Linked DNA regions of Homo sapiens: region 2 is linked to region 1. Evidence: fine-mapped expression QTL. Tissue or cell type: whole blood. Region 1 holds a variant in brackets; the other region holds the start of a gene. All regions are shown on one strand. Distances are between the middles of the regions. Region 1 overlaps FANCC (FA complementation group C). Region 2 holds the start of FANCC (FA complementation group C).

Region 1 (5,376 bases):
TATGGAAATATAGGGCATGAGAACTGAACTTCAACAAAAGGTTTCTCAGTTTTCCTCAGTTTTAAATGAGTTCACTTTTTTCCATATCTGACATAGTAGTCTTTGTGTGATACTCAGAACGGTAACAGTCACCTTGAGACCCAGGGATAAGGAAACCTGAGGGGACTGGCCAACATACTGCAAACAGCAAAGAAGAATCACAGCCCCGTGTCCTCACAGCATAGTTGAGGCAATGAAGGAGCCAAATGTGGAACTGCTCTTTTTGCTTAATCCCTTAACACCATTCTTTGGCTTTCCTGTTACTTGCAATCAAACACATCCTAGCTGACACATCTCAGGACCTAGTTTGCTGAGCATATTTTGAAACCCACAAACTCACACAATACTTGGCACATTGTAGGAGCATGATAAATATGTACTGAACAAATGTATGGAAAATAAATACATAAAAAAAGCAACAAGGCTGTTGTAGAAGAAAAATAAAACAGATAAAATTCTGACTGATTTTATGTTGATAGAAACCCCTGTAGCTCCAAGATTGTTAACATTTAAAACAAAGCTCATTTTAAACCACACAAAAGTAGCTATACATGGTACCTGTCAGGGGGACAAGAAAGTCTAAGAATGCTTTCCTTTGGTCTAAAACATCTCTAAGCCCAGAGAGCTAAGTCTACTCATGCCAAATATGGACCATATAAGCTTCTCAAAGTGGAGGCGACCTGATAAAGTGCACTTTTTTCCCATTTACCCTCAGCATGAGGTCCTTTCTCTCATGAAATAAGCACCAAACAGGAGATGTATGGAGAGAATGCTACAAAACACACTAATTATGGAAAAAGAAAAAAAAGACAAATCAAATACTTAGCTTCCAATCAATCAATGTCATCAACTAGGGGCACCATGACCTTGTCAGAAAATATTTAAAACCCCCTAAAATATAATCAAATATAAAATTAAGAAATTTATGTTCAATTCCACTTAAGTTGACAAGATTCTTCCTCTTCCTTGATGAAAGCCTGATAACTATTTTTAATTTGCTGAAATGTAATGTTTCTTTGCTTCACTTCACAGGGTAAGACTGGTCAATTTACCCCTGTGTTTGTGGCTTTTTTTTTTTTTTTGAAAGTCACAATAAAAGATTCTTGTTCCCATTAAGTGCTTATGAAAGAAACAAATGGTATTTTTCCTCCTAAAACCAATGAGGTTTTAAGAAAAGTTCCACTAGGAGGAGCTGGCTATTTCTCTGTTGAGTCAGTGGCGTTCCACCTCTGAGATAGTCTAATCAAAAACACAGACCTGAAATTTGCAGATAATTTCAAACAAACCTCAATTGTAAACAAAATCTGGGCCTAAGGAATTGGAGGAGGCAACTTCAATCCAGGTGCAGAGTATGTATATATACTCTTCAGATGACTTTGCAAAGAATTAAGGAAACTGAATCTAGCAGATAACTCTGGGGATTTACTAGGCTCAATTCTCCCACCCAAGACCTCAGCAATGGGGGGAGAGGAGCTATTCTCTGGACTTGGCTTCAAAATAAAAGCATCCCTTCACCACAGCGCTTGCCATCGAGGCTGCTAAGACAGAAATCTCTGACCTTGTTCTCCATCAGAGCACCAAGGAGCCATCATTCGGACTTGAAAAATACCAGCCTTCCCTCATGCATTCTATTACAATCATTACTTCCTTTCCTTGCGTTTCTTGTCCTCACTTCACTTACCTGACAGTAAGACTTGGGTTTTGGTTAGACCAGTTAGAAAGTGAGCTGAGGAACACATTAGTTATTAAAATATTAGGAAGCTTCTTCTTGCCTTGTGACTTGGCTCCAAGTTATTTCTGCCTCTTTCTCTCCTTGATTCTACAGGTAATTTATTACTACCTAAACAAAAACAAGGAAACCCATACATTTATTAGGAGCCTATTTTATGACAAGAGCTCTGAAAATCACTGCAAATAAAAAGATGACAGTGTTCCCCACTCTCAAGCAACTTATGGCTAATGAGGAAATTGGGACCCATACACAGATTACACTGTGGGAAGGGCTGGGAGAGAAGGAAACACAGGGGGCTGCAGGCAGCATGAGGAAGGGGCACCAGCCCGGCATGGAGGTGTCAGAGTCCCCAGAGAGAAACGATCCTGAGCTAAGCAGGTCAGGAAGCATGAGCAGGAGTGAGCTAAAGACATCAAAATCAAATGCAAGGTGCTTGCTGCAACCAACAGCAAGAGTTAAATTACCATTTGACCCATGGTTCTCAAACTTAAAAACTGTTGAGAGCTCCCAGTATTATCTAAAGTCATTCTTCTTATTAGTTAAATATTAACAAACATAAACCAGTAAAACCTTTATGCTTGTAACTCTTACACAACCACAATATAAAAAATATACAAATTAAATACCAACAAATCTACAAAATGAGTAAAATTTAAATTGACAAAATTAATTCAGCGTGATCAATGATGCAGTCATTGAAACTCACTTTGGACTAACCATGTAGGGCTTGGTACCGACAGGCAGGTTCTGTTGACTGGCCAATACTAACACATGCAGGGAGACAGCTTAATTCACGCATCACTTTCCTCTTCAGAACCACTGTGCAACGGCAATCTCTTAGCTCAAACACGTTATTTACATTTTCACCTCTGTTCTTTTATAATATCTCCCTATATTTAAAGCAGTGCTCCTTGGCACCAATACAAACACAACTCCAGGCACTGAAATTTTAAGACATTACTTAGTTAGAATTGCAGGCATTTAGGTGTGTGGAATTATGAATTTTTAAAAAATTACCACCAAAATGAAAAATAGAAGGTGAAACCTTTG[TAG/T]AGAACCATAGCACCCTAATAAATCCCACCTGCCTAATCCCACTCATCTTTTGGGGCCTGCAAGCCTCAGACGGAGTTTAAGTAACTATATGCTATGGGTCACTGAGCTCACATAGGAAGCGTTCTTGTGGTTAGCTTTCAGTACTATGTAAAACCAAGTATCTTTCTTTCCTTTAAACTCTCTGCCCATGTGACTTCCAGTTAAGATGGCACGGTAAATTCACTTTTGGATGGATTCTCTTTACTCCAAACATACAGCAATGAGAGGGGAAACATAAAAAGAAAAAAGGAAAAGGATACAGGCAAGCACACACACAAAATAAACATTTCTATGAAATCGATACGAGACAGAAACACAAAGAGGCAAGACCCCGAGGACAAAACCATGAGCAGCCAGCCCCTCCTATGCTAGGGTCCAAAAACAGGCAATGAAACTGTAGGTTTGGGTCTTAGAAGGGTTGGGGGCTAAACAGAGGCACAAACGACAGAGTGAGAAACTAGCACCCTTGCTGGAAGGTGGGATGGAAGGTGCTGACTAGAGCCCTACCCCTCCATGCCTGAAGGAAGGCTCGCAGCATCCTTGCCTCCTATGGAGTGGCGGTCTAGGGAGGATGGAGGACACCTGTCAGGCAGGACCAGGCACTGCGTGAAGCAGCCATGAATGCCCAGGTAACTAAGCCCCCACTGTGAAAGCTAGTTCTGCACCCAGGCTCCATGGAAGCCAGACAGAGACAAGCAGAATGAGGCTACACAGGGGAGAGTGTGCAGAGAGGGAGAAAGAGGCGAAAAATGACTGAATGAGTGAAAAGTTTTTAAAACCTCATTCAAAACATGTCATTTAACCAAAGTTCTAAAGTACATGAAGAAATAAATGCAACTAACAATATCAGACATTAGATCACAAATTCACTTCAGATGAAGTTAATCAGTCCAACAAATAGGTATATTTAGATGCTAAAAAATCCTAACAAAGTATACTTAAGACACTAAAATAATCCCAACAAAATATATTTAAGGTGATTTTTAAAACCAACAAAAATCAGTATATTTAGGGTGCTTTTTAAAAAAGCTAATTAAAAAATAAGAAAGTATAAATTGAAAAGGCAGAATTAAAAGATGGCTAAAAAAAAATCAACTGCAAAGTATGTAAATCAGGACTACGGTCATTAAAACCTAAAAACTCAGTGCACAAGATACTAGACAGTAGACTGGAGAGGAAGCACTCTGTCTTGACAAAACACACTGCACATCACTGGATCTGCAGCAGCACAGCTCAGGAGCCCAGCTGCTGGCCCCACAGCCTGGCCTCACTCGGACCTGGCTGGTAGCCTTTCGACATCACAGGTGACTGAATGGGTCAGATCAGCACATCCAGGCTGTGAGTCCCACTAGCATTTTGCCTCTCCCCTACCAGTTGGTGGATATAGGTGAAGTAACTTTCGTTTTATACAACCCCTACAGAAACTTGATGAAAAAGCAGACCCTGAAATGCTTCAGGCAACAGATTTGTCCTCCTTGTAATAGATAACTCACTCTGGATTTAAATTTATCTTCTTTGCCCACCACACTTCTCCAGCATCACCAAATGTGGACTTGACTGGATTCCTTATTCACCATCATGGTATCACAACCAACTTCGGACCAAGGAACTCATTATATAGCAAAAGGAGTAAAGCAATGGGCTCCTGCCAAAAGGGTCTGTTGTCAGCTAAGTTACTACTAGCTGCTGCATGAACTCGATGGCTTTCACCTGTATTCCTTCATCACTTCCAAATTTCTCTACTACATATTTATTTCTTTCTGCTGCATCTTCTCTGAAGCTTAAACAGGAAACAAACATTAACATAAAGGAAAACATAAACAAGAATGATACCCTGAGTTATGTGGAAAGGAACTTTGATTTGAGGAATCACAGATGAATAACAATATAAAAAATCTTGGAAAACTGGTAACAATACACATCGTAATTGTTTGGATAAACAGTCACATTTTTTTTTTCTTTAAAAGGTTAGAAAACCTCTCATTTAGGTTCCCCTGGAAAGCAGAGCTCAGACAGGCTAGAGAAGGTAAAGACCTTAATTCACCCCCTCATTTCCAAAGACAGAAAGCCTCTCACCAGACCAGCCATGTGATGCCCTCCAGGTGTGTGCCTGGCAGCTATGAAAGGGGACTGACAGGACACAGGCCCTGGAACCAGCCGCTGTGCTCTCAGAACCTCTCCAAAGCCGATGCTATGCTATAGCACAAGAGCACCACCTACTGAGTTCCAAGGGACAATTTAGTCCATTTATTGAAAAATGGCTCAGTAAAATATGACTGTGGAGGGATGAACTCCACATCATTTCAATCTAGTTGGCTGTGTCTCTTTCTTTTAAAACTAGAACCCTTGCCAAGACTCCTGAAAAAGAAGCAGCATGCCTTCTTATTCTCCCATTTTCACTTTAATTACCACAGTAAAATGAATGTCTCTTCCTATCAAGCTTTGGCTATCTTAATGAATACTGCCATTTCTAGATCCCTCTTCCCCTACCTGTTTTCCAAAGGGCAGAGAAA
Region 2 (5,376 bases), 51 kb after region 1:
AACCCGGGAGGCGGAGATTGCAGTGAGCCGAGATCGTGCCACTGCACTCCAGTCTGGGCAAACAGAGCGAGACTCTGTCTCAAAAAAAAAACAAAAAACTTGCTTTCACTTTATCGATAAAAAAAATTTTAATGAAATTTTAAAAATAATTCAATTCACAATACCATCAAAAATAAAACTTCAAAATTAATTTACAAAAGGGCAAAATTTGTACACTGAAAATTACTAAATACTGCTAAGAGAAATTAAAGCGCTCAACAAATGGAAAGAGATTCCATGTTCATGATGAGATGGCAATTCTCCCCCAAATAGATATGCAAAATTAAATGCAATTCCTACAAAGTCTATCACAGCACGGTTTTCTGAAAAAAAATAACAAACTGATACTAAAATTTATATGGAAATGTAAGGAACCCTGAACCGCCAAAACAATTTTGAAAATGAAGAAAAACATTGGATAACTTACACTACTTAATTTCAAAACTTACTATAAAGCTGCCATAATCAAGATAATGTAATGCTGACATAAAAGGCATGCAGGTCTCTTACCCTCAGTCCCGTATTAAACTTGAGTTAGAAGATGCCAATCTCAAAATGGAGGTAAAACCATTGCCTGCTAGCCCCCAGTCCAACTCTGGTGGCCAATCTGAATTGTTACCAATTTTATTTTTCCAGACACGGTCTCAGTCTGCTGCCCAGTGTGGAGTGCAGTGGCGCAATCACAGTTCACTGTGGCCTCGACCTCCTGAACTCAGGTGATCCTCCACCTCAGCCTCCCGAGTAACTGGGACCACAGCCCCGCATCACTATGGCCGGCTAATTTCTTAACTTTTTGTAGAGACAGGGCTCTCTCTGTTGCCCACGCTGGACTCGAACTCCTGGGATCAAGTGATCCTTCCGCCTCCGCTTCCCAAAGTGCTGGGATTACAGGCATAAGCCACCATGCTCTGCCTGTTATCTGAATTGCCTTTCCTTCTCCACTTCTGCATTTTTATTAAAACATTGCAAAACTTCCAAGGTGCTTCTCCTGTATGTATTTTTTCACATTAAGTCAATCACTCAAGATCCACAAACAAGACAGAGAATGCACATATCCCAGCCTAAAATAAAACTTTTAAAAATCATTTGGTGCTCATTTCCAGCCCGATTTGAGGCCCTAACACTACCAACTTGGAACTACCACTCATGTGAGTTTCCTCTGGCTCTCTCCATGGCCCAGATAATCAATCCAACTTTCTACTGGCCAGGCTGGCCTCCCTGTAGCTGGTTCTCATAAACACGAAATTTGTATAATTGTTATTGGAACTACCTGCTGAAATATGGAACTGGTTAAAAGTACCATTTGTTTTAAAATGTACATGCACAGTTGCACATACATGCAGCAACACATCTTCCACAACCAGCCAATCAATCAAGTTAATGCTTTTTATTAGAGGACAAAACAAAAAATACCAATATAGAGCCTGCTTTTCTTTTCTGATGCCTTGGTAAACGTTTTTGGAGAAATCAAGAGAAAATATGACCGAATAAAGCAAAAATAAATTCGAATGTATAATATACAAAGTATAATTAGTCCAGTTCTCAAGAAGCAGGCTCTATTACTGGGAGTAGTGGGTTGGTGAAAAAGATCTCTGATATATCTAGGAAAACAAATTCTTTTTCGATGCAGCCTTTCTTGTATATGAATAATGTATATGAGTGCTTATTTCCAGGTGACTCTGGTACAGCACATAACATTGAAACATCAATTCAAGTTTAATGTATAAAGTCGCAATGAACATGTTTTCCATCTAAGCTTAGGTAATGAATGATCTCAACACATGGTATGAATTCTACTGTTTGTAACAACCTTTCAGGGGAGTAAGGAGAAAACGATCTGTCTGAGGGCATATCACTGACAGTGAGTGACAGCCACAAAGAGCTGAAGTTGGGTGGCCCAAAAGTGCTCTGCTCATTTGATAAATGCTAAGTCAAATCACATCACAGTTTAGATGCATTAAATGGGGCACAAGTTAGAATAAAATCAGATGCCCGGGAGTTTTCCAAGTTTCAGATTAGAACAAAAGTCCAGGCACATACAGGACTTTGCTAGAAAACTCCTTGGTCTCTTCCCTTAAGATTCTGGTACCCAATTTCCCATGTTATAAAACTCCAAGTCTTTTCCCCCATTCGGTGCGCTGGACACATAAGATCATAGAGGGTTCGTAGTTGTAAACGCACCCACCTAAAAAATTAAAAAGAGCAAACCAACAAACAGCACCTGAAAAATCTCTCACGGGCTTTGAAGATATGGCCTGGCGTCCACAAAAAGAATGGAGGGAAGACACTGGCCTCTGCGAACCCGCCTCCCTCCGGGAATAAAAGGCGGAGGGCGGGAGGGGTAACAGCCGCGCCCCGGGCTCCTCTAATTGGACCTCGCCCCTCCTGGCGCCCCGGCGAATGGGGTTTGGGGGCAGGGGTGTGAGGGACGGGGAGGACGAGGCCAGCTGTAGAGGGCGACCGGCTCAAAGGGGCGAGCTTTTCACGGCTCCCACGAGTCCGAGGCAGAGAAATTCACCTTTGCTCCTCTCCTTTGAAGAAGACATAGCTGCCTGCGCTCAATGAACAAAAAGAACCAAAACGCCAACACCCGGCTCCCGCCTCTCCGGGGGCTCCCTTCCGCGCGACCCCAGCGCCGGCTCCCGCCCCCGCTTTCCCCGCCCTGGCCCCGCCCCGCGGGCTGGCACCGCCCGCCACCTTCCGCCTCCCGCCTCCCGCCTCCCGCCTCAGCCTTAGCCACAGCCCTGCGCCGGCGGGAACCCCTCTCGCCCACCGCAAGGCGCGCCTGGCCCACCCGCTCTCGCGAGCCTTCCCTCTTGCCCCTCGCCTCCTCCTCCCGCTCTCGCCGCTGACGTGTCGGCCAGACCCCCGAGGGAAGCCTCCGCCCTCGCTGCGTTCTGCGGCCTGCCGCTTACCGGGTGGTCCTCGCGGGAGCTGCTTCAGCAGTTTGGGCAGTGGCGGAAAGGAAGCCACCGCCCGGGATCTGTGGCTTGAAAATTTGGCTTTGCCTCGTATTGGCTTTTTGAGTTTTTTTGGAATTTTCCCGCGGTCGCCCGGCAGTGGAGCCGCGCGCGCGCACACGTGTCAGCAGTGCATTCTGGGGCCTGGCTAGCGGCCCCGCGCGCTCCCGCGGCGTCGCGGGAAAATTCCGACGAATCTCGGGTCCGTGGGGCGGGGCGGGCGCGGCCAGGGCTCTGGCGGAAGTGGGCCCGGCTGGGGCGGGTTCTAGGCGAGCGGAGTCGGTACTGCTCCAGTGTTCCCGGTTTCGCGCGGAAGCCCCGGCGGGAGCAGGGTTGCAGCAGCGCCCGCGGAGAAGGGGCGCTGGCTTCTTCCATATTCTGTTCAAAATGTAGGGGAGGTAAAATGGAAATTAGTTCTTTTGAAGAAAAGTTGAGGCTTTGTCAACGGGGTAAAACCTCTAAAATAAGATTTTCTAACTGCGTTCTAAACAATAGCAACAAAAAAGGCATCTTCAGTTAATGATTTCCCCTACCGTACATTAGTTCCATACAGTGTTTGGTCGGGGTTCAAATCAGTTCAACGCTGTACATAAACCACCCAAACAAATATTAATAAAATTTTCTCCAAACTCCCATTTATGACAATGGCATTAGCTTGTCTTGGTGAATTTTTTTTTCTTCTAGGATCTGACGACTTAAGCTTTAAAATGTCTTAAATCAATGCCTCACAACCATAAATCATAATCATAAAACTACAGCTTAGGTCGGGCGCTGTGTCTCAGGCCTGTAATCCCAGCACTTTGGAAGGCCAAGGCGGGCGGATCACGAGGTCAGAAGATCGAGACCATTCTGGCCAACATGGTGAAACGCCGTCTCTACTAAAAATACAAAACGTTTAACCGGGCGCGGTGGCGGGCGCCTGTAATCTCAGCTACTCTGGAGGCTGAGGCAGAATAGCTTGAACCAGGGAGTCAGAGGTTGCAGTGAGCCGAGATCGCGCCACTGCACTCCAGCCTGGCGACAGAGGGAGACTCCGTCTCAAAAAAAAAAAAAAAAAAGCTACAACTTCACATATACGTTCAAAAACACACTACAGGCCGGGCGCGGTGGCTCACACCTCTAATCCCAGCACTTTGGGAAGCTGAGGCGGGTGGATCACCTGAGGTCAAGAGTTTGAGACCAGCCTGGCCAACATGGCAAAAACCCGTCTCTACTAAAAATACAAAAATTAGTGTGTACTCCCGGCTACTTAGGAGGCTGAGGCAGGAGAATTGCTTGAACCCAGGAGGCGAAGGTTGCAGTAAGCCAAGATCGCACTACTGCACTCCAGCCTGGGCAACAGAGCGAGACTCTGTCTCAACAAAAAACACCACAAAGCTGTGTGTGCTTGTAATAAAAATAGCTCTCAAGTATTTAAACATGTCCAACTATTCCTATGGTGAAGAAATACCCGTTTTACCAATGAATACTTTCAATTCAGAGACTAATTTGCAGAGGTTATACATTTATAAGTGATACAATAAGTATATAGCATAGCAATAGCAACAATCTGTTTAAGAATTAAAGGTAGTTAAAAAAAGGAACCGATCCAGAGGTTGAGACAAAACTGGCAGAATCTGCAACTACATTAAGGAATTCGGTGTTTACATCCATTCTCGAAACTATTCCATGCCAGTTAAGGAAGTCGGTGCTTTTTGATTGTTTTTTAATTTTAGATTCGGGGGTACATGTGCTTGCTTGTTACATAGGTATATTGTGTAATGGTGGGGATTGGGCTTCTGGTGTACCTGTCCCCCAAACATTGAACATTGTACCCAATAGCTAATTTTTCAGCCCTCACCCCCTTCCCACCCTCTCCCTTTTTGGAGTCCCCAGTGTCTTGTTATTCCCATTCTTATGTACATGTATACCTATTGTTTAGCTCCCGCTTATGAGAACATGCAATATTTGATTTTCTGTTTCTGAGTTTGTTCACTTAGGATAATGTCCTCCAGCTCCATCCATGTTGCTGCAAAGGACATGATTTCGTTCTGTTTTACAGCAGAGAGGTCGATGTGTTTTTGATGTGTGCATAGTGTGACATGGATAAATCAAAAGCAAGTCCTGGGTAGGGAAATACATGCCTGAGGGGCACTCATCGTGGCACCTTGACCATGAGAAAGTCACCTCTGTGGTAACAAATCGAGAGTGAGTTGACGTTTAAGTTCTGCATTTATCAGCAAAGAAAGCAATTAAAGTATGTATTTCTTGAGAGAAATTATCTATTTTGGTACCCACATCCTTTTACATATTCGCTGAAAAATCATTTTTAGTGTTTGTTAATGATTGATGTCTTGCCATATCCCAGTTTTCTGTCTTTTTAGTTCAGTGGTTAATA

The links. PIP is the estimated chance that this variant, and not a neighbour inherited with it, causes the effect.
Region 2: it holds the start of FANCC, and the variant in region 1 is fine-mapped to the expression of FANCC in whole blood (TOPMed, PIP 0.92).

What each region holds. Positions count from the first base shown.
Region 1 is chr9:95,263,876-95,269,251 of GRCh38, forward strand. All of the region lies in intron 1 of FANCC (FA complementation group C), which reads right to left. Among named protein-coding and RNA genes, the nearest start is that of FANCC, 51 kb to the right of the region's middle. RefSeq lists a silencer at 4,852-5,146. The variant TAG/T (reference allele first, on the strand shown) is at 2,822.
Region 2 is chr9:95,314,572-95,319,947 of GRCh38, forward strand. FANCC (FA complementation group C) reads right to left here and starts at 3,138. Exons shown (of 15, transcript NM_000136.3): 1 at 2,955-3,138. RefSeq lists a silencer at 2,490-2,809.